Linked DNA regions of Homo sapiens. The protein of the gene in region 4 interacts with the protein of the main gene of each other region in a biochemical or structural test. Each region holds a gene or a part of one and is shown on either strand. Other genes may lie near its edges. The genes, in order: MAPK7, UBE2E2, MAFK, NFE2L2, TIGAR, TRIM41 and ENC1.

What was found.
Region 1: the proteins of NFE2L2 (region 4) and MAPK7 form a complex in vitro, tested with the Homo sapiens proteins (one study listed by BioGRID).
Region 2: the proteins of NFE2L2 (region 4) and UBE2E2 form a complex in vitro, tested with the Homo sapiens proteins (one study listed by BioGRID).
Region 3: the proteins of NFE2L2 (region 4) and MAFK form a complex in vitro, tested with the Homo sapiens proteins (one study listed by BioGRID).
Region 5: the proteins of NFE2L2 (region 4) and TIGAR form a complex in vitro, tested with the Homo sapiens proteins (one study listed by BioGRID).
Region 6: the proteins of NFE2L2 (region 4) and TRIM41 form a complex in vitro, tested with the Homo sapiens proteins (one study listed by BioGRID).
Region 7: the proteins of NFE2L2 (region 4) and ENC1 form a complex in vitro, tested with the Homo sapiens proteins (2 studies listed by BioGRID).

What each region holds. Positions count from the first base shown.
Region 1 is NC_000017.11:19,381,498-19,384,044, forward strand, and holds the end of MAPK7 (mitogen-activated protein kinase 7), read left to right. Parts: coding exon 1-189; intron 190-283; coding exon 284-969; intron 970-1,315; coding exon 1,316-1,449; coding exon of another isoform or gene 1,450-1,453; intron 1,454-1,580; coding exon 1,581-1,734; 3' UTR 1,735-2,047; downstream 2,048-2,547. UniProt on the Homo sapiens protein: Plays a role in various cellular processes such as proliferation, differentiation and cell survival. The upstream activator of MAPK7 is the MAPK kinase MAP2K5.
Region 2 is NC_000003.12:23,531,827-23,535,326, forward strand, and holds part of UBE2E2 (ubiquitin-conjugating enzyme E2 E2), read left to right. Parts: intron 1-727; coding exon 728-875; intron 876-2,326; coding exon of another isoform or gene 2,327-2,388; exon of another isoform or gene 2,389-3,500.
Region 3 is NC_000007.14:1,533,702-1,537,201, forward strand, and holds part of MAFK (transcription factor MafK), read left to right. Parts: exon of another isoform or gene 1-1,179; intron 1,180-3,500. UniProt on the Homo sapiens protein: Since they lack a putative transactivation domain, the small Mafs behave as transcriptional repressors when they dimerize among themselves.
Region 4 is NC_000002.12:177,258,228-177,261,727, reverse strand, and holds part of NFE2L2 (nuclear factor erythroid 2-related factor 2), read left to right. Parts: intron 1-3,500.
Region 5 is NC_000012.12:4,345,213-4,348,712, forward strand, and holds part of TIGAR (fructose-2,6-bisphosphatase TIGAR), read left to right. Parts: intron 1-3,500.
Region 6 is NC_000005.10:181,226,281-181,229,780, forward strand, and holds part of TRIM41 (E3 ubiquitin-protein ligase TRIM41), read left to right. Parts: intron 1-3,500.
Region 7 is NC_000005.10:74,630,729-74,634,228, reverse strand, and holds part of ENC1 (ectoderm-neural cortex protein 1), read left to right. Parts: intron 1-3,500. UniProt on the Homo sapiens protein: Actin-binding protein involved in the regulation of neuronal process formation and in differentiation of neural crest cells.

The DNA.
Region 1 (2,547 bases), on a different chromosome or scaffold from region 4:
CCATGGAGTCTCCACCACCAGCCCCGCCACCATGCCCCGGCCCTGCACCTGACACCATTGATCTGACCCTGCAGCCACCTCCACCAGTCAGTGAGCCTGCCCCACCAAAGAAAGATGGTGCCATCTCAGACAATACTAAGGCTGCCCTTAAAGCTGCCCTGCTCAAGTCTTTGAGGAGCCGGCTCAGAGGTGCCTTGTGGGCAGGTCGGGTGGGCAGAGGGGAGACTTGGACTTGGACAAGGCTTCAGGCTTTTACCTTCTCCCCTGCCCAACTTCCCCGCAGATGGCCCCAGCGCACCCCTGGAGGCTCCTGAGCCTCGGAAGCCGGTGACAGCCCAGGAGCGCCAGCGGGAGCGGGAGGAGAAGCGGCGGAGGCGGCAAGAACGAGCCAAGGAGCGGGAGAAACGGCGGCAGGAGCGGGAGCGAAAGGAACGGGGGGCTGGGGCCTCTGGGGGCCCCTCCACTGACCCCTTGGCTGGACTAGTGCTCAGTGACAATGACAGAAGCCTGTTGGAACGCTGGACTCGAATGGCCCGGCCCGCAGCCCCAGCCCTCACCTCTGTGCCGGCCCCTGCCCCAGCGCCAACGCCAACCCCAACCCCAGTCCAACCTACCAGTCCTCCTCCTGGCCCTGTAGCCCAGCCCACTGGCCCGCAACCACAATCTGCGGGCTCTACCTCTGGCCCTGTACCCCAGCCTGCCTGCCCACCCCCTGGCCCTGCACCCCACCCCACTGGCCCTCCTGGGCCCATCCCTGTCCCCGCGCCACCCCAGATTGCCACCTCCACCAGCCTCCTGGCTGCCCAGTCACTTGTGCCACCCCCTGGGCTGCCTGGCTCCAGCACCCCAGGAGTTTTGCCTTACTTCCCACCTGGCCTGCCGCCCCCAGACGCCGGGGGAGCCCCTCAGTCTTCCATGTCAGAGTCACCTGATGTCAACCTTGTGACCCAGCAGCTATCTAAGTCACAGGTGAGAGGGAGGCCCAGGCCATGGGGACACCTGGGTCTGGGCCAAAGGAAAATGGGTTCAGGAAGCGGTCAGTGTTCCACAAAAACTGAGCAGCAGATGGGGCTTTATCTCTGAACGTGTCCTCTTGCTCACAGAAGGAGCATAATGGCAATGAAGAGGTTGTTAGGAGACAAGTTAAATATGGCCTGCAAAGTGCCTAGCCCAGAGATGGGGCCAGCCAGCACTCACTGACTGCCGAGACTGGTGTTAGCACTCCCAGATATCCAGGCGGAGTAGTCAGCAGCATTGGGACAGGGTGGCCTACAGACCTCAGTCTGTCTGCATTGTAACCTGTCATTCCCTGCAGGTGGAGGACCCCCTGCCCCCTGTGTTCTCAGGCACACCAAAGGGCAGTGGGGCTGGCTACGGTGTTGGCTTTGACCTGGAGGAATTCTTAAACCAGTCTTTCGACATGGGCGTGGCTGATGGGCCACAGGATGGGTAAGGTGGCTGGACTGAGCTCCTAGACTGGGACTGTGGGGAGAGGTTCCTGGTGCAGGAGACATGCACCTGTGGGATGGGTGAGGGTCCAGCCTAGGCTAATAGCACCCCTCCCTTTCCTTCCCCTGCAGCCAGGCAGATTCAGCCTCTCTCTCAGCCTCCCTGCTTGCTGACTGGCTCGAAGGCCATGGCATGAACCCTGCCGATATTGAGTCCCTGCAGCGTGAGATCCAGATGGACTCCCCAATGCTGCTGGCTGACCTGCCTGACCTCCAGGACCCCTGAGGCCCCCAGCCTGTGCCTTGCTGCCACAGTAGACCTAGTTCCAGGATCCATGGGAGCATTCTCAAAGGCTTTAGCCCTGGACCCAGCAGGTGAGGCTCGGCTTGGATTATTCTGCAGGTTCATCTCAGACCCACCTTTCAGCCTTAAGCAGCCACCTGAGCCACCACCGAGCCATGGCAGGATCGGGAGACCCCAACTCCCCCTGAACAATCCTTTTCAGTATTATATTTTTATTATTATTATGTTATTATTACACTGTCTTTTTGCCATCAAAATGAGGCCTGTGAAATACAAGGTTCCCTTCTGCACCTGACTCCAGGTGTAATTTTTGGAGTTCGGGGTAGGACACCATCAGCAGGGGAGCAAGGAGGAGCCAGGTGCCTACATTTGGGGGATAAACAAATATGTTTGTGTGTATGAAGCCAGTTCATTCAGGTTCTGAAGGTTTATTGAGACCTTCAGTCCCTACCCACTCCCAGCCCTGCAGAGATTGTCCTCTGCTCCCTCATGTGGCTAAACCTCTCAACACCCAGAGGGTATGGGGAAGACCTCATATGCATGCCTACCTTGGCTGTGGCTGTTTCAGGGTGGTGTGCGGTAGCTGTGTTCTTGGCATAGAGCTTCAGGGGCTGGGATGGGCCATCAGGGGAAGCTGAGTATGATAGTGAGGTGGGCTGGGGTTCCACGGTACTCACCACAGGGGAGTAAGTTGGTGGGAGGGATGCTGAAGATGGGACATGGTTTGAGAGCAGCCCAGAGGAGTGCTGGGCTGTGGCCTAGAATACACCATGGGCCCTGTTCACACTGCACTGC
Region 2 (3,500 bases), on a different chromosome or scaffold from region 4:
CAAGGCAGGCGGATGACTTGAGGTCAGGAGTTCAAGACCAGCCTGGCCAACATGGCAAAACCCTGTCTCTACTAAAAATACAAAAATTAGCTGGGTGTGGTGGCGGGCACCTCTAATCCCAGCTACTTGGGAGGCTGAGGCAGGACAATCGCTTGAACCCGGGAGGTGGAGGTTGCAGTGAGCAAAGATCACGCCACTGCACTCCAGCCTGGGCAACAGAGCGAAACTCTATCTCAAAAAAAAAAAAAAAGAAAAAAAAACTGTTATAGAATAATATTTATTTTCTTTGTATTAGTACTCTCATGCTTTTTGGTGTTTGAATATTATAAATGTACAAAATCCTTAAAATAACTGGAATCTAACAAAAGTTTTCTTTGAAATTTTTTAGAAGTCAGAGTCAGTTTCTCCCCATGAACATTCCTGTAGTTGTATCAAAAGTAAATTCAGTCCCTAAAACATTTGTTAAATAACAGGACTCTTTATAAGAAGCAGAATGTCATGGTTTTGCTGTTGATGTTTATTTCTCTGTGCCCAAAATGACAAATTCTAAAATGATGATCTCTGTTGATTAATCTCATGTGCCCAAGAAAAAAATCAAGTGTATGTTAACCAATAGCCTGGGCTATTTTGTCTGATAAAATAGGCAATTTTATTAGACAAAAATTGTCTATAGATACTGTTAATAAACACTTTGTCTAACAAAATATAACTTTACATTTTCTTGTAGGTTACCTTCCGAACAAGAATCTATCACTGTAATATTAACAGCCAAGGTGTGATCTGTCTGGACATCTTAAAGGACAACTGGAGTCCGGCTTTAACTATTTCTAAAGTTCTCCTCTCCATCTGCTCACTTCTTACAGATTGCAACCCTGGTAAGAGACTTTAAATCTAGTATGAATTGGAGCTTGTCAAGATTTAAATGTCAGACCCTTAGTAACTTGTTTACTACTGCTACTACCACTACCACCACTGCTTCTACTACTATTATTGTTAAATTTTCATAGTATGTAACTATTTTCTTTTTAAATTGGGTCTTCTCATTAGTGTTTTTAAGACCTATCATTTGCCAAAAAGGAAAAAGTATAGTGTGGTAAAAAAAATAATGAAAAATCATTTTAGATGGGAAAGTACGTTTAAAGAATGAATTAAGTTATCCTGCCAAATAATAATAAAAATTCAAGTTGAATAGCTTAATCTTTAATTAGATGCCTACTAGAAGATGTTAATTTGAGGAATGTGGGCTATTAAAATCTGATAACAACCAGGCAGCACCATGCAGACGTGACCTTTTTGGCATCCTAGTAACTGTGCATCCTGACAAGCTATTATAACGGTCCTGAATGGTCTGTTCTAGGAAATACCCCAAAAGTAAACAAGGAAATACACCTCCCAAGAAAACGAAAAAGTCTATAGCCAGGCCTTTATGGCTTGCTGGTGTGCTTACCACTGAAAATTCTTAATTCCTGGGCCATGTCTTTACAAATTGGGTTTATTTTAGAAAATACAAAAATCCAAAGATAGCTATAGGGTTTTCATTGATGTTCTCAGTGGGAGAATTATTTTATGAGTAATTAATAGCTTAAATATTGCATGAGATTCCCTCTTCTACAATCATGAGTAAACTCTGTTCACTGGATACATGAAATTTTACACAAATGGAAATGACGAGTATCAGTGGGGTTGCTTAGGATCCTGGCTGTTTTATAAAACATCAAGAAATAACAGTCTTTCTACTTTTATATTTCTTTATTTTTCAGCAGTAAAATCTTTTTTAAAGTAGCAAATTAGTATTTTTTTTTTTTTTTTTTTTTTGAAACTGAGTCTCACTGTGTCACCCAGGCTGGAGTGCAGTGGCACGATCTTGGCTCCCGCAACCTCCGCCTCCTGGATTCAAGCGATTCTCCTATCTTAGCCCCCCAAGTAGCTGGGATTACAGCCGTGTGCCGCCAAGCCCAGCTTATTTTTGTACTTTTAGTAGAGACGGGGTTTCACCGTGTTGGCCAGCCAGGTCTCGAACTCCTGACCTTGTGATCCGCCCGCTTTGGCCCCCCAAAGTGCTGGGATTACAGGCATGAGCCACTGTACCCAGCCTGCCCAAAAAATAAAATTGTGCAGGATCATTATAAAATATTTTTTGAATTAATTCATACTTTACTACAGACAGTAAAGTCCAATAATGTTATACTAATTTAAAGTTAATTTTGTTCTTTCAGTCCTGTTGTTCCCATTTTAATCCCATTTGTCTGTGACTGTGTATAACCTTGTATAACCTCATTTGGAGGTAATGTTGCAAGAAGGCTTTTTTTTTTTTTTTTTTTTTGAGGTGATTTCGAAGCCTGGCCTGCTTTGCCTCCAAGTCAGCTGAAATGGAATCTGTTACCCTGAATAAGCCTGTATATGACAGCCTGTTCTCTCTACAGATATTCCTGCTTAAAGGAATAGATTCATTCCACCAAAGCCTTCTCTCAGCAATCAAAAAGACTTCTGTTCAGTGAACTAGTTTTTTTTTTTTGCTCCGTTTCAGAAAATTACAAATGCATTCTGCAAAAACTTAAAAATCACTCCTAACTAAAGCAGAACCACATAAGTAAAAGAAATAGATTTTGAAATAATGCTATTGATAGTAAGAACAAGCCTAAAAATAATGTTCCATAAAACCAAAGACAGCCTGCCTCATATGAGACTAGAAGAGAATTTGTAAAATACATGCTAACATTTAGTTTATCACACTTTTTAACACATAAAAATAAAGTTTCCTAATTGGTTTTTATGAATGTTGACACTTCTAGAATCTTAAATAGAGTTGTTTATTTTAAAGTAGTCAAATGTCCATTCTTTTGCTTAATGGACTTATTTCACACTGTTATCTGGTACACTTTCAATCTCTGTAGGTTTTTTTACCTACAGAGGTAGGAAAGATTAGGTTAGATTGAAGTTTATCTTAAATCTATCTTCAAATTATCACAAAAACAAGTTTGATAGAATAGGAATAAATAAGATTTTCCTACACTGAATCTGTAGAGCTATTTTAACCCGGAAATGCTGTCACCTCAAAAATAGGCCTTGTATAATGATACAAATTTAACTCACTTAAAAAATACTTTCTCACTCTTATCCATACATAAACTTATTTTCTAAATCTTTTTCATACTCTTTTTGTAATTTGCACTTGTCTCTTTAAAGAATTTTTGGTCCATTCCAACACAGATGTTCTTTAGGGTATGACTACCCATCCTTATCAGCATGATATTTGTAGACAGCAGATGTAGATTTGAAAACCAGTTTAATTGTTTATTAGTCATATCACATTGGATGGGTCACTTAACTTTCCACAGGCTTAGTTTTTGATATAAAATTGGGATTAGTACCAGCCCTGCCTAAATCACTGGATTCCTCTGAGGTTAAAATGAGATGGTATATGTGAAAGCCATTTATAAATGGTAATGTGTTGTTGATATTGTTACCCAGAGTATTTGGGACACCAAATGGGCCCACAA
Region 3 (3,500 bases), on a different chromosome or scaffold from region 4:
ATGCTTGAGGGCTGGGATCAAGCCTGGTTGGCGCGTGGATGAGGAAAAGAGAGAGGGGCAGGGGCAACTCCGGTGAATGATGCGGTTGGGGGCTGGGGGGCATCTGGGCCCCCCGGAATGCCCCTGACTGGACTTAGAGGCTGGGAGCGGATTGAAGCCCCAGGGCGGCCGGGGGAGAACAGGATGCTGATGGGGAGCTGGAGGCCGAGGACAGGAGGATGGTGTGGTGGGAGCCAGGGCGGGGACTGGAGGGGGTGTGGTGTGTTCTGCAGTCTGCTCTCTGCTGCTGCAGCTGCCTGAGTCACCTCTGGATGTAGCGGAATGACACAGCTTCCTCAGACTGCAAATGCAAGGTGACCAGACGTCCTCCAAGCCGGGCCGACAGTCATGGCTTGCTGGAGGGCAGCCAGCCAGGGCCAGGCTGCTGGCTGGTATGGGCCGGGCTGCGGGGTGCCAAGTGGGGTGCCTCCCGCATGCTTAGTGGGGCTGTGTCCGGGACAGCCGGACAGTGGGGGCCCTCGCAGTGTAGGACCTCATCCTCAGTAGGAAGGGTGTCTGGCTGGTCTCTGGGACCAGCTGGGCTGCAATTAGTCGGTTGACACCTGTTTGACAGGCACCCACTGGGTACCAGTGCCACAGCGGCCCCACCTACCCTTGCGGCCCAGTGTGGAGGGCACCCGGCTTGGGGTCTCTGGCAGAAAGGCTCCTGGGAGAGGCGGGTACACCTTGGGTGGCCTCTGGTTTTGTGGATTGCACCTGCCGTGGGAGTCACTGGTCGGGGGGCGGGAGGGCGCTTGCTGCTGTGCTGCTGGGTTTCTGAACCCGTGTCTCTCGCACAGAGCTCCCGTCCTCCGTTCCTGGTCTTCCTCCTGCCCCTCCTCCCTCTCCCGCATCCCACATCCTCGGAGACCCGCGGAGAATAGAAGTGGAAGGGCCACTCCGTCTTGGTCAGACTGGCTGGGCAGCTGAGGGGGTGGGGCATGGAGTCTGTGTCATCATTCACCCCTTGGGCAAGAACAAGTGACCCATCCAGAGCCCCCATGCTGGCCTCGTAGAGCGAGCGGCAGCCCCGATGCGTCCTCTCATCTGGGAAGAATCAGAGCCCCAAAGCTGAAATCCCCGTTTCTCTATGGGCATCCACAGCCGGGACCGTTCAGAGGGGTCATCCAGCCGTCAGCTGCTCAACTCACTTTTGCACTCTCTCTTTTTTTTTTTCCTAAAAGATAAGGTCTTGCCCTGTCACTCAGGCTGCTGGAGTGCAGTGGTGTGATCACAGCTCACTGCAATCTCGACTTCGAGGCTCAAGCAATCCTCCCACCTCAGCCTCCCGAGTAGCCGGGACCATAGGCACATATGTGCCATCACAACTGGCTATTTAAAATTCTTTTTTTTTTTTTTTTTGTAGAGATGGGGCCTTGTTATGTTGCCCAGGCTGGCCTGAAACTACTGGGCTCGAGCATTCGGCCTCCGGAGGCGTTGCTATTACAGGCAAGAGCCACTGTGCCCAGTCCCAACTTGGTGGAGAAAATGTTCCCTCCTGGACCCCAAAGCAGGTCCTTCTCAGCTTGTGCCAGCACAGCAAGAGGTGCCAAGGCTGCCAGCCCCCCACTGAGCAGGGTCAGGCCCATGGGTGACCAGTGAGTATTTGCTGGGACTTAAAAAGTTAAAAATGGCCGGGCATGGTGGCTCATACCTGTAATCCCAGCACTTTGGGAGACTGAGGCAGGAAGATCACTTGAGTCCAGGAGCTCGAGACCAGCCTAGGCAACATGGTGAGACCCTGTCTCTACAAAAAAGTTTAAAATTCTCTGGGTGTGGGGGTGCCCACCCGTAGTCCCAGCTGCTCGGGAGGCTGAGGCAGGAGGATCGCTTGAGCTCAGGAGGTCTGCAGTGAGCTGTGATTTCACCACTGCACTCCAGCCTGGGTGACAGAGTGACACCTTGTCTCTAAAATGAAAATTAAAAGGGAAAACATGATCCTCCAGAAGCTGAGGTGGCTGCCTGGGGATCACCTGCTCCTGAAAGCACAGTTCTGGACGACTGACCCTGGGCTGCCTGCCCTGCCGGGGGGAGCCCAGGGCTCTGATCCTCACCCTCTGCAAGGTGCCTTCCTGGGCGGAGCCGCCCTGCCCTGCGCTTTATGGAGCCCAGGCCCTCAGTCTGGATCCTGGAAAGGGGCGCCCGGCGTCCTGGCTCCGTCACTCATCCCCAGCTGCAGCCGCAGGAATTGCCTCTGTCTGAGGCTGCTGGCAGTTCCTTTTCCTTGAGAGGAAGTGATGCCCCCGCTGAGCCTTGTTTAGTTCTGCGTCACGTCGAGGTGTCTGGCCTTGGGTTGAAAACCCTGCCTCTTCCATCCGAAAACCAGTTACCTGAGAGCTGTTCCAAGTTATAGGTGGTGCCGGAGAACTTTGCTGCCCGGCGCTGCTCCCGGGACGTGGGGCGTGAGCGCTGCACCCTTACTTACGTCGGCTGCTGGGGCCCCACAGCGGAAACTCAGACCCGCCCACCCAGGCCCCCGCTGTGGCGCTGAACACTGCACTTCTCTGGTGACCACCGAAACTCAGAGGAGCTCGGGGTGTCGGGTGCTTGTGCGTGGCGATGCTGGTGTTTTGTTAGCTGCTGGGCGTAAGACACAATGCGAGGACGTCGTTCCTCGGGGGCTGCTGGAGGGGAGCTTGGCTGCAGTGCTGACCAGGTGCTAATGCAGTAGCCCCTGCCTTGGGCCCGGGGTAGTGCACGGGCGTCTCTGCGACCCCAGGCACGCTTTCCCCCTGGATGACACCCTAAGGCTGCGTCTCTGGCCCTGGGGTGGGAGCGCTTTCTACATGTGCTCTGGCGGCCCTGGAGGCCATGTGAGGTCGGACAGTTCACAAAACCCCATTTAGGGCAGTCGTCATTTTTAGATCAGTTGCTTTACAAACTTTTTTTGTGCATACAAAACTCTTCTCTGAATGTCCTTCCAAAAGCAAGCTGTCATCTTTCTTGCCTCTGATGTTTAAAGCGACATTAGGTTAAGGCTACTTGGATTTATTCTGTGCATGGTGGGGAGAGGGAGGCGCCAGCACCATCCCATCCCGTGCTGGGTTCCTGAGAGAAGCTTTGCTGCTTGGCTGGGCCGTCCCGCTGCGTCGTCTCTCCAGGCGCGTGGCTGGTCCAGGCTTCCTCGGCAGAGCAGAGTCGTGACCTGCCCAAGGAGGTGGGGGGCAGGCTTGCGAGCACAGCGTGGGGGCCGCCTGGGAGCCCTGCGTCCGCCAGGTCCTCATTCTTCAGAGGGCCCCAGTGCAGGTGTGCCTCGAAGTACTGGGGTTGGAGCGGGGCACAGGCGTGCTTCAGTAGCCCTGGCAACCTTGACCTCCTGGAAGTAGTCAGCCACCCCTCCTGGGGCGCCCCCGGCTACCGTGTGCCTCCGCAGTGTCACAGGGCATCGCGGAGGCATCTTTTTAGTGGAAAGATCCCCACGCTGAACTCTGCCCCTGGCATCTGGCCGAGCCCCACACGTC
Region 4 (3,500 bases):
TGGGTGCCAGACATAATTGCTTCACATGCATAATTTTACAGTAACCTCACGGGAAATATTATTATCCCTGGTTTCCAGGTTGGGAAAACCAGGCATAATAGTTAGATCAGGCATTAGGTTAGGAAAGGTTAGGAGAGAGGCATAGAGAAAGGCCAGGACCTGCTAAGGTGACCATACTATTGAGTGGCCAAGGTAGCATTCAAACAGGTTTGACTCCTGGGGGCTTCTAATCACCACTTCCAGACTGTACCAAAACTCCTTAAACTCTAAATAGGAAGAAAAGCTCACACTTTAAAAAGTGGGTAAGTTGAGATTTGCCTATTCTGGGGGAAGGAGAGGCCGGAATATAAAAGATTAATGTCTGCAGCTTTTCCATTTAGCAAGACATTTAATCACTGTATGTGACGTGGGGAGGTGGACCTTGTTAAATACAGGGAGAGTGAATACAATCCATCAATGGTACCCACTGTGGTCCTTTTAAGGAAGACACAGAGGCCTCGGTGGATTCAATTTAGAAAGGCAGGACTGTTTTTTGTTTTTTGTTTTTTTTTTTTTTTGAGATGAAGTCTTGTTCTGTTGCCCAGGCTGGAATGCAGTGGCCTGATCTTGGCTCACTGCAGCCTCTACTTCCCGGGTTCAAGTGATTCTCCTGCTTCAGCCTCCCGAGTAGCTGGGATTATAGGCACCCACTGCCCGGCTAATTTTTGTATTTTTAGTAGAGATGGGGTTTTACCATGTTGGCCAGGCTGGGCTGGTCTCGAACTCCTGACCTCAGGTGATCCACCCGCCTCGGCCTCCCAAAGTGTTGGGATTACAGGTGTGAGCCACTGCGCCAGTCTGTTTCTTAATATAATAATAGTTTTAAAAATTTCTGATGTTTGGCAATGTCCAAGATTCTGCCTCACATTTTTCAGAAACTGCCTTTTTTCTTAATTAAATCTCTTAGCTACTGGAGTCTTTGCCTTTGTTTGCCTTGCTACTTGGTACATTTCTTCTGTTCCATTGGCTCTTTTTGTTTTGAAGTAGTGCTCAAAAATAAGTTTGGTAGTAAGAATATGGTGAAGAGTGTGACAGACAGGGTTAAACCAGGCTGAAGGAAAGAGAGCAGAATGGGGAAAATTTGAGTTGAAAACAGCTAGCAGAAAGCTGATGGCGCAAATTCAACCCTAATCTCATGTTTTGGCACTTCTGAACTATAGCAAGCATAAGGGCTCAACTCTTATCTAGTTGAAGCTTACTTGGGTCTTTGAGAATAGTACATCTCAAAATTAAACACTTTCTTAGTCCTTATTGTTAAGTTGTTTTTGGAATTATTGTCTTATTTGTCTGAATTAAGTGTGCTGCAGGACTTATAGGATCTGATGGATGATTTGCCTAAAAGTTGGTCCAGGTCAACCTCAGGGCATTTAAATGCTTGGTCCAGCCACTTTCTGAAAGTTGACTGAAATATGTTGCACAGCAGGGTAGAGGAGGACAAGTTTACTAGATGTCATTTTTAACCTGCTTGTCTTCATCTCTGACTGTAGAAATGTATATTCATTATAAGTTTGCCACAAATAGAGAATAGAGTTTATTCTTTGATCATCTAATTTCTAGGAGCTATTGAAATTTCACTGCTACCTGCTTTTAAATAAGCGCCAACAAACATTTATTAAAAGGGCTTTAAGGTATAGGCCAAGATTTATTCAATTGCTAATGGTATGTTTTCTGTAAATGAAAGCAAAAATATGTTCAAGTGTATAATATTAAATATTAACATTCAGAAACTTGGAGAAATACAGATGGCTTTTTTTTTTGAGACGCAGTCTTGCTCTGTCGCCCAGGCTGGAGTGCAGTGGCATGATCTCCGCTCACTGCAAGCTCCACCTCCCGGGTTCACGCCATTCTCCTGCCCCAGCCTCCCGAGTAGCTGGTACTACAGGCACCCGCCACCACGCCTGGCTAATTTTTTGTATTTTTAGTAGAGATGGGGTTTCACTGTGTTAGCCAGGATGATCTCGATCTCCTGACCTCATGATCCGCCTGCCTCAGCCTCCCAAAGTGCTGGGATTACAAGCTTAAGCCACCGCGCCTGGCCTAGATGGATTTCTTGTACCAGACTATACCCTAGACATGAAAACAAGACTGTTAAACAAAATCCTGTGCTACCTAAAGTTTGAGCCTTCTGTGTGTCAGTTTCTGCCATAATAAATAACTCTTAACTATGATTATTAAGTATATTAAGAACTTTGAGTAGGGGAGGCACGTTTAATCATTCGTTTTTACGGCATATGTACTATAATACCTGTGTGTTGCAAATCCTGGTATTTAAAAGTCTTTTTGTGTATTTGAGCATGTAAGTTTATTTGGTCCAAACTGCTGGTACTAGTAAAGACAAGTCCAGGGCATAAGTAGGACTTACAGCACCAAGTTCGTCTTTTTTTTTTGAGACAGAGTCTCAGTCGGTCACCCAGGCTGGAGTGCATTGGTACAGTCTGGGCTCACTGCACCCTCCACCTCCCGAGTTCAAGCGATTCTCCTGCCTCAGCCTCCCAAGTAGCTGGGATTACAAGTGTGTGCCGCCACGCCCGGTTAATTTTTGTATTTTTAGTAGAGATGGAGTTTCACTATGTTGGCCAGGCTGATCCCGACCTCAGGTGATGTGCCCACCTTGGTCTCCGAAAGTGCTGGGATTATAGGCGTGAGCCACTGCGCCTGACCTCCAAGTCCATCTTTCAAAGGCTCTGTTGATAATTGACTCTTGAGAGTCATTACAGTCCATCAACAGCCTGTATTCTGAATATTTGTTTTTAATTCTAAGACAATGCTAAATAGCCATTCCAAATAAGGTGAGAACTGAGACTTTAGGGCCTGTATTATCAGCTGTACACTGACAAGCTCTGAACTCTATTGCTTTTTCAAATCAGAGAAGAAAAATGAGTAAGAAAAGAAAAATATGGATCACTTAGGCTTTGATGCCTCCTCTGAGTTTATAGTGTTTACCTTCTGTATTACTTAGGTGATCCTCTCTAATGGCATTTTAAATCTCTGTTGATACTTGTCTTACTTATGTATCTGTTTTTTTTTCCTCTATAGTAGATAGAATTTATAGATATATATGTATTTTAAAGTAAGATACAATTTACGTACCTTACAATTTACCCATTTAATCTAATTCAGGGTTATGCAACCCTATGAATTTAGTAGTTTATTCATAGAGTTATGCAACCATCACTGTAATCAATTTTCAACACCCTCAAAAGAAACCCCATATCCATTAGCAGTCACTTCCCATTTCCCCTCAACTCTCCTGGCCCCTGGTAACTACTCAGTTATTTTCTGTACCTATGGATTTGCCTATTCTGGACATATCATGTAAATGGAATAGCATGTAAATGGAATCATACAGTATTTATCCTTCTGTTGCTGGCTTCTTTCACAGCAATATGTTTTCAAGGTTTAAAAATGTTGCAACGTATATCAATAGCGTCATTCCTTTTTATGGCTGCATACTATTCCAT
Region 5 (3,500 bases), on a different chromosome or scaffold from region 4:
CCTTCGAGCTACCAATGACTTTCTTCACAGACTTGGAAAAAACTACTTTAAAGTTCATATGGAACCAAAAAAGAGCCCACATTGCCAAGTCAATCCTAAGCCAAAAGAACAAAGCTGGAGGCATCACGCTACCTGACTTCAAACTATGCTACAAGGCTACAGTAACCAAAACAGCATGGTACTGGTACCAAAACAGAGATATAGACCAATGGAACAGAACAGAGCCCTCAGAAATAATACCACACATCTACAACTATCTGAACTTTGACAAACCTGACAAAAACAAGAAATGGGGAAAGGATTCCCTATTCAACAAATGGTGCTGGGAAAACTGGCTAGCCATATGTAGAAAGCTGAAACTGGATCCCTTCCTTACACCTTATACAAAAATTAATTCAAGATGGAGTAAAGACTTACATGTTAGACCTAAAACCATAAAAACCCTAGAAGAAAACCTAGGCAATACCATTCAGGACATAGGCATGGGCAAGGACTTCATGACTAAAACACCAAAAGCAATGGCAACAAAAGCCAAAGTTGACGAATGGGATCTAATTAAACTAAAGAGCTTCTGCACAGCAAAAGAAACTACCATCAGAGTGAACAGGCAACCTACAGAATGGGAGAAAATTTTTCCAATCTACTCATCTGACAAAGGGCTTATATCCAGAATCTACAAAGAACTCAAACAAATTTGCAAGAAAAAAACAACCCCATCAACAAGTGGGCAAAGGATATGAACAGACACTTCTCAAAAGAAGAAGTTTATGTAGCCAACAGACAGATGAAAAAATGCTCATCATCACTGGCCATCAGAGAAATGCAAATCAAAACCACAATGAGATACCGTCTCACACCAGTTAGAATGGCAATCATTAAAAAGTCAGGAAACAACAGGTGCTGGAGAGGATGTGGAGAAATAGGAACACTTTTACACTGTTGGTGGGACTGTAAACAAGTTCAACCATTGTGGAAGACAGTGTGGCAATTCCTCAGGGATCTAGAACTAGAAATACCATTTGACCCAGCCATCCCATTTCTGGGTATATACCCAAAGGATTATAAATCATGTGCTATAAAGACACATACACATGTATGTTTATTGCGGCACTATTCACAATAGCAAAGACTTGGAACCAACCCAAATGTCCAATAATGATAGACTGGATTAAGAAAATGTGGCACATATACACCATGGAATACTATGCAGCCATAAAAAAGGATGAGTTCATGTCCTCTGTAGGGACATAGATGAAGCTGGAAACCATCATTCTCAGCAAACCATGGCAAGGACAAAAAACCAAACACCGCGTTTTCTCACTCGTAGGTGGGAATTGAACAATGAGAACACTTGGACACAGGAAGGGGAACATCACACACCAGGGCCTGTTGTGGGATGGGGGGACGGGGGAGGGATAGCATTAGTAGATATACCTAATGTAAATGGCGAGTTAATGGATGCAGCACACCAACATGGCACATGTATACATATGTAACAAACCTGCACGTCGTGCACATGTACCCTAGAACTTAAAGTATAATAAAAAATATATATTAAAAAAAAATGACAAAGAGACATATGAAAAAGTGCTCAACATCATTGGTAATCAGAGAAATGCATATCCAAACTACAATGAGTATTTTACCCCAGTTAAAATGGCTTTTATCCAAAAGACAGGCAATAACACATGCAGGCAAGGCCATGGAGGAAAGGGAACACTTGTATGCTGTTGGTGGGAATGTGAATTAGTACAACCACTGTGAAGAATTGTTTGGAGGGAGGTTCCTCAAAAAACTAAAAATAGAGCTACCATGTGATCCAGAAGTTCCACTGCTAGGTATGTACCCAAAGAAAGGAAATCAGGATATTGAAGAGATATCTGCACTCCCATATTGCAGCACTTTTTACAGTAGCCAAGATTTGGAAATAATCCAAATGTCCATCAGCAGATGAATGGATAAAGGAAATGTACACACACAAACAATGAAGTACTTTTCAACCACAGAGAAGAATGAGATCCTGTCATTTGCAACAACATGGATGGAACTGGAGGTCATTATGTTAAGTGAAGTAAGCCAGGCACAGAAAGACAAACTTGTCATGTTCTCACTTATTTGTTGGAGCAAAAAATTAAAACAATTGAACTCATGGAGATAGAGAGTAGAAGGATGGTTACCAGAGTCTGGGAAAGGTAGTAGGGGGAGGTGTTGGGGAAGTGGGGATGGTTAATGGGTACAAAAAGAAAGAATGAATAAGACCTAGTATTTGATAGCGCAACAGGGTGGCTATAGTCAATAACAATGTAATTGTACATTTGAAAATAACTAAAAGGATATAATTGGATCATTCGTAACAAAAAGGATAAATGCTTATGGGGATGGATACCCTGCTTACCAGGATGTGATTGTCATGCATTGCATGGCTGTATCAAAGTGTCTCATGTGCCCCATAAATATATACATTTACTGTATACCCACAAAAATTAAAAATTAAAATACAAACAGAAAAAAGCCAAAAAATGAAAACCTCAGTGGAAGTACTGAAGTATAGATCACACACGGCTGAAGTGATCATTATAGATAAATATATGATAATAACCTAAATGTAGCACGGCATGATAGATTTAAAATATGAGAGTTTAGCTGGGCACAGTGGCTGATGCCTGAAATTGCAGCACTTTGGGAGGCCGAAGCGGGAAGATCACTTGAGCTCAGGAGTTTGAGACCAGCCTGGGCAACATAGGGAGACCTTGTCTCTACAGAAAATAAAAAAGTTAGCTGAGTGTGGTGGCACTTGCCTGTAGTCCCAGCTACTTGGGAGGCTGGGGTGGGAGGATCACTTGAGCTCAGGTAGTTGAGGCTGCAGTGAATCGTGATTGTGTCACTTCACTCCAGCCTGGGTGACAGAGCGAGACCCTGTCTCAAAAAAAAAAGTCCCTTTAAAAAATAAATAAAATAGGAGACATTAGAAGACATGAAGAGCATGATGAGAAGTTCTAATGTCTTTCAGAAAGAGATAGCAGAGAGAATGGGAGGAAGAGGTGATATTCAGAGGTTACAGAATATTGACAATTTTACAGAATTTACAGAATTGTTGAAAGATCCAAGAAGTGTACCAAATCCCAACCAGGATAAGTAAAGAAACCCATATCTACATTCATTATAGCAAAATTGCAAGACTCCAAAGAATGAGGAAAAAACCATCCTTTATTAAAGACCATTAGTTAGGCTGTCAGCAAATTTGTTCATATTGATGATTTCTTTATTGTGCTGAGAAATAACAAGGATTAACCTAGAGTTTTATACCCAGCAAGATTTTTTTCTGCTGTGTAGGTGAAATGACATTTCAGACAAAGAGATTCTGAAGTAACTTTGAAAGGAAAAATGAAAAAGAAGGAAAATAATTGCAGAAGGGAGATCTGAGTTTCAGAAAAGAATAGTGAGCAAAGAAGTTGGTAAAGGTTTAGGAAAATACAAGGAAATATTGACAGTACATATAA
Region 6 (3,500 bases), on a different chromosome or scaffold from region 4:
TTTTAGTAGAGATGGGGTTTCACCGTGTTGGCCAGGCTGTTCTGAAATTCCTGACCTCAGGTGATCCGCCTGTTTTGGCCTCCCAAAGTGCTGGGATTACAGACATGAGCCACTGTGCCTGGCTACACAAAGATTGTTAAACCTGCCTGATTGTTGGAATTACTAGGGGAGGTTTTCAAAAATACAGTGGATCCTACCACTAGAGTTTCTGAATCAGTGAGTAGGAGAATATCTTTAAAAAGCCCAGTCTAGCATGGGGATCACTGCATTGGTAACATTGCCTAGCTGTTAGTCCCTGCATTTTTAGCAGAGATTGTGAGGTCCTGTTGTCCTTTCCATCTCCTCAGTTCCTAGTTAACCATACCCATCATATCATGTGTGGTCACTTTGTGAACAGGAACCCAGGCCAAACTATCCATGGGCATTCCACCCTTTCTCTTTCACCTCCCCCTGTAGGACTGCTCCAAGGAGCTTCTGAAACTGGATTTTAATTTGCATTAGCCAAATTTGTTCAATGCCAGCTGCCTGAAATCCCGTATTAGGTCCTGAAGTAGGTGAGGAATTAAAAAAAGTCATAATCTCTTTTCTTTTCCCCCCTTTTTTTTTTTTTGAGACAGAATTTCACTCTTGTTGCCCAGGCTGGAGTGCAATGGCACAATCTTGGCTCACCGCAACCTCTGCCTCGGATTCAAGCGATTCTCCTGCCTCAGCCTCCCGAGTAGCTGGGATTACAGGCATGTGCCACCACACCTGGCTAATTTTTTGTATTTTTAGTAGAGACGGGATTTCTCCATGTTGGTCAGACTGATCTCGAACGCCTGACCTCAGGTGATCCGCCCAACTTGGCCTCCCAAAGTGCTAGGATTGCAGGCGTGAACCACTGCGCCTGGCCATACTCTCTTTTCTTGATCTGTTTACTGCGCTCTGCAGTTTGGGAGGCCATATACACATATTTAATCTGACATTAAGTGATGAGTAAATGTAAATACATAGTTTTATTGTATAGGACTAATTTGAGTGATTCCCTTTCTGACTTAATAGGCTATTTTACAAGTGGGTCATTTATTTTTTTATTTTTATTTTTTTTGAGATGGAGTCTCGCTCTGTCGCCCAGGCTGGAGTCCAGTGGCGTGTTCTCGGCTCACTGCAAGCTCCGCATCCCAGGTTCACGCCATTCTCCTGCCTCAGCCTCCCAGGTAGCTGGGACTACAGGCGACTGCCACCACGCCTGGCTAATTTTTTTGTATTTTTAGTAGAGACAGGATTTCACCATGTTAGCCAGGATGGTATCGATCTCCTGACCTTCTGATTTGCCCGTCTCGGCCTCCCAAAGTGCTGGGATTACAGGCGTGAGCACCGCGCCCAGCCACAAGTGGGTCATTTATTCTTTTCAGATATGTACATGCAGTAACCAGTAGCTTGGCAAAATGTTTTGTAAAAATTTTTTTTGTTGAATAGGTAATAACACACAAATGATATGTAAATATAGTTCCTGAACAGTTACATGTTTGTTTTGTTTTTTTTGAGACAGGGTCTCACTCTGGCCAGGCTAGAATGCAGTAGCATGATCATAGCTCACTGCAGCCTTGACCTTCTGGGTTCAGGTGATCCTGAGTAGTAGCTGGGACTGGAGGTGTGTGCCATCATGCCCAGCTAATTTTTTTTTTTTTTTTTTCGTGGAGACAGGGTCTTGCTGTGTTGCTCAGGCTGGTCTTGAACCACTGGCCTCAAGCAATCTTCCCATTTTGGCCCCTCAAAGTGCTGGGATTACTGTGTCTGCCCGACAGTTAAATGTTTTGAAAGTTGGCCGGGCATGGTGGCGGGTGCCTGTAGTCCCAGCTACTCGGGAGGCTGAGGCAGGAGAATGGCGTGAACCCGGGGGCGGTGGAGCTTGCAGTGAGCTGAGATCACGCCACTGCACTCCAGCCTGGACAACAGAGCGAGACTCTGTCTCAAAAAAAAAAAGAAAAAATGTTTTGAGAATTTCTCTTATAACTGGCTGGCTGTGGTGGCTCACGCCTGTAATCCCAGCACTTTGGGAGGCTGAGGCAGGTGGATCACTTGAAGTCAGGAGTTCAAGACCAGCCTGGCCAACATGGTGAAATTCCGTCTCTACTAAAAATACAAAATTAGCCAGCATGATGGCATGTGCCTGTAATCCCAGCTACTCGGGAGGCTGGGGCAAGAGAATCGCTTGAACCTGGGAGGCAGAGGTTGCAGTGAGCCAAGATTGTGCTACTGCATTCCAGCCTGGGCAACACAGCGAGACTCCCATCTCAAAAAAAAAAAAAAAAAAAAAAAGGAAATATATCTTAAATAGAACTCTGTTTGAATTTGTGCTTATTAATTTTTGTTTTTGTCAGCAATTTAGGGTCCCGGCACGGTGGCTCACACCTGTAGTCCCAGCACTTTGGGAGGCAGAGGTGGGCAGATCACTTGAGGGCAGGAGTTAAGACCAGCCTGGCCAACATGGTGAAACCCTGTCTCTACTAAAAATACAAAAATTAGCCAGGTGTGGTGGTGGGCACCTTTAATCTCAGCTACTCGGGAGGCTGAGGCAGGAGAATTGCTTGAACCCAGGAGTTGGATGTTGCAGCGAGCCGAGATGGCACTGCTGCACTCCATTCTAGGCGACAGAGCAAGACTCTGTCTCAAAAAAAAAAAAAAAAAAAAAAAAACAGTAAATGGTAAATTTAAGCGTTATAAATTCTGAATTAATGGAGAAATTATTGACTAGAAAAGTAGAAAGTTATATCAGAAGGCCAAATTTTGTGTAGTTCATGCTATTGTCACGAGTTGACTATAATTCCATTATTACTGTAATTTTGTCTACAACCACTTATCCTGTGCAGCAACTGCTGTTTGCACTCTGGCTTGGTAAACTCTTTAGTTCAGGGGTCATTATCAGGATGTCACTGGCAGCTTAAGGTATAGGGAACAAATATTAGATAACATTTACTGATCTTCTGCTACATGCCAGGCACTGCAGTAAGTGTGCTATCCATGAGGTCCATTCTCTTCTTATTTGAAGCTGAGGAAACTGAAAGCATGGCTTGCCTGAGGTCACTTCACTTCCCTCTGGTCCTGACTGGAGTCAGGCTGGAGCTCTCCTACCCTATATTCTCTCTCAAAGAAAAGGAGACAGGCTAGTAGAAGACATAGAAAAGGTAAGAGCAAATAGGTAGGGCTTATTCCACTCATTCTGGGCTAACAGCCCTTTAAAGAAAAGTATTTGGCTACAAATTGTAGAAACACAGAGCTCGTGTGCCTATTGGCTATAACAGTTACAACCTTTGGAAGAGGGGTTTCGGTGTCCTTTGCCATTTAGCAAGTAATTGAGCAGGAGAGAAAGCAGATGAGCAGAAAGAAGCAAAGAAGTTGAAATAAGTAGAGTGTGGGCAGGGACTCCGCAGTGTCCTGGAGGAGGCACACCTGTCATTGGTGCCCTGGGAACTCATGTATTAGATATTTCTTGGGATCACAGAGGATGTTGGGGGTGG
Region 7 (3,500 bases), on a different chromosome or scaffold from region 4:
TGTTGGCCAGGATGGTCTTGATCTCCTGACCTCATGATCCGCCCGCCTCGGCCTCACAAAGTGCTGGGATTACAGGCATAAGCCACCGCACCCGGCCCTGAAGAGCTTTTTTAAAAACTGCCCATCCCAGAGACTTAGTTTCATTTGGTCTGGGGTGGGGTCCAAGCATCAGTATTTTTAAAAAGTTTCCGGATGATTCCAATGAACAACCAAGTTGAGAACCCCTGACCTCTGTTAAGTATGCCAGCTAATGTTTATTGAGCCCTCACTGTGTGCTTGCAGCGGTGCCACGTGTTTCCCACGGATCATCTCATTCTATCCTCACAACAACCCCGTGGGGAATTATTACTAGCTTCATTTTATAGATGAAAAAACCTTCATGCATTACGGAGGCTAAGCTGCCCGAGTTAGCAGAGCTTAGTAAGAGGTGGAGCTGGTTAGGAAGTCAATGCAGGGGGTCTGGCTCTAGGGCATCAGCACTGGAGCATCGTGTTGCACTGCCACCGAATAAACTTGAGCTTCACATCCATGACACCAATGTCATCCCAGGTGATACTTCATTTATATTCAAATTTTGCTTCCTCAAACCCTTTGTAGAATGATTAGGGTTTAAAAATGTATTGCTCAAATTCATTCCTAGTTTATTCTCTCCAAAATTATTAGCTTATTTTAAATGTTTTACTTAAAAAGTAGCCCCCTTTAAGGCGTTTATTACCTTTAAAGATAAATCTATATCTGTCTTTGTAAAAGGTTGCATGTACATAGCAGAAATTTGTGCAGATAACACAGAGCCACCTAAACTTCCCAAACTATGGCCTTTCAGAGTTAATCAGTCAGGCCGACCCTATTGTCAAGGCTAACAAAAGTTGTGTTTCTGAGTCATATATCTGAGTACATAATAGTTGTCTGTGTATTTAAGAGTATAGAATACTCTTGGCTCAAATAATTAATAGGCCTACACAGTTCAGAGTTCGCAAAGCTCACGGCTGCTTTGCTGCTAAGCATTCTTAGGATTGGCCCCAGGAATCGCTTAGGCATGTGTAAGTATAGCCCAGCGCACACAGGATGTGTTGACTTGTTTTGGTGATTCATGGGCTTATTACTAATAATAAGAGAAGAAAGTAACTGCTTTGGAGGAACTACAATGAAAACAAACTCATTTACTTGGGAACTTTTGGCTCTGTTTTCCCTAGTATGTTTCACACCTTTGAAGGGGACTTCAAAGGGAGAAAAGGAGATCTAGGCCTAGTGGCAAGCTAAGCACAGAGGGGTTTCATCTCATTGGTCTTTTCTTTCCCTGTCCCTTACAGCTCATTTAGAAACATCATTAAACTTGGCCTCACTCTCACATTTCAGCTTGCCATTTTATTTTCTTTTTGAGACAGAGTCTTATTCTATTTCCCAGGCTGGGGTGCAATGGTGCTATCTCAGCTCGCTGCAACCTCCGCCTCCTGGGTTCAAGGGATTCTCCTGCCTCAGCCTTCCAAGTAGCTGGGATTACAGTGCCCGCCACCACGTCGGGCTTTTTTGTATTTTTAGTAGAGATGGGGTTTCACCATGTTGGTAAAGCTGGTCTTGAACTCCTGACCTCAAGTGATCCACCCATCTCAGCCTCCCAAAGTGCTGGGATTACAGGCGTGAGCCACCGCACTTGGCCTCCAGCTTGCTATTTTTTTTACTTCTTCAGTTATCTCTTCCAGCCTTCGTACAGTTATCAGAGTTCTGAGTTATGTCATGCTTTCCTGGAATGAAACTCCTTCAAAGCAGCAGGAACAATCAGACACCTCCTCTGGGGAGCAACTGGGCTAATAGTGTCTCACACCAAACTGGTTTTTTGTAGCCTTGCTGGCATCTCAGTAATCTTGAATAAACAAATGCTCTGAAAGTGGTTATTTCATTTGAGATATGAATGCATGACTCACCTCTAAAGCAGGTTTAAAGAACCTCCTAGGCGAAAGCATCAATTAACAGCACACTTAGTTGGGTGTTAGTCCAGAACTGACTATATTTGCACAGAAGAGCCATAAAAATTGCTACCAGGGTGGTGGTACATAAAAAATGACAATGGGCAGGCTGGCTGGAATCCTTGGAACAAGGTAAGGAAATTGAGGCAGAAAGAGGAGAGAAGCCACATGTGTATTCTGGCCCTAGTTTTAAGTTCTAGACCTTCCTGAGTTTTAGGTTGCTTCTCTGTCAAATGAGTGGTTTGATCTTTAATCTCCTGTGATCTGTCCCAACTCAGACTTGGGTCAATTGATAGGGGAGTTAAAAGAGGCGAAAATACCTAGCCCAGTGCTTGACGTGTAGTAACTTACTGTGAGATAATGGCAGTGGAATTAGCTTTCTGTGTGGTAGGAAAATGAGGTTTCTTTGACTATTATCTGCTTGTTATCTTTAGACTTCACTTTTGGTTCCTCCTTTTTCAGCCCAGAGTGAACATGTTGGCAAACACTTGACTTCACCCTACCCTGGGTGTTTGAACTGAATCATACCCTTCCGGTCGCTGGGAAACAGAGCAAGTAAAGTGTTAAGTTATATGTGAAATAACATCCTCTTCACCCTTGGCGCTACCAGTGAGAGAGTCAAGCACATGAAAACTAAATTTGACAGGGCCAAGTTTGCTGCTTTTAAAGGGCAGCGTAAGCGCCTGATCAAAGCCACTCTTTGAATTTCCGACAGGGAGAATGTTGGTTAAAATTTCTAAAGTTTACTACACAAGATAGTGCTAAAACATTTAAGAGGGGGTTGGAGTGCCTTAAAGTGCTGGGTAGGTGGGTCTCAGTCCCAAACTGCAAATTCCTCTGCCCTCCAAATGTAGGTGCTAACGGAATTAATAGAGTGTTTAACAGAAAGTTTCCCTAGGTCTTAAAGCTCATCCACCTAGGAGGTTTTATCTGCCTCCTGCTGCTCTGCCAGTGGGTGGGAAGGGCAGAAAGGAAATTACTTTGATTATCCTCTGTTTTCATGGTGCCGTGTGGCCTCAACCTAACTTAGGCTTTGATTTGCTTTGTTTCTTCTCTAGATTTTGTTGTTGTTGTTGTTGTTGTGTGTCCTTTTTTTTTTTATTATCGTTCCTGTTTGAATATGCAATTTTTTGGGGGGAGGGTGTGTGTATTCCTTTTTTCCTGTTTGAATATGCATTGTCTTGAAATTTTATATTATTATAAGATACATTCTTTTGGCCTAATGTTGACATATAGGTTACAAGGAGGTGGAGGTGGGGCAATGACACCGTAGTCTAAGGCATGCCTTGAAAGCTTGAATCACTGTTAGGAAACAGCCAAAAGAAACAACTCATGAAATGAATCAGGCTTCTGAACACACAAAAGCAAAGAATTCAGTGCAAGGTCATGAGTGGCTCCTCCAGAATTCCCTTTGTCTGTACTTAGACTTACAGCAATAGGGATACAAAAGCCCTCTGCACAATTTCCCCAGATGAAATGAGAAATAAATAAATGGGAAGAGTAAGCAGTGTGAGGAAATGCAAGCTCTATGAAATG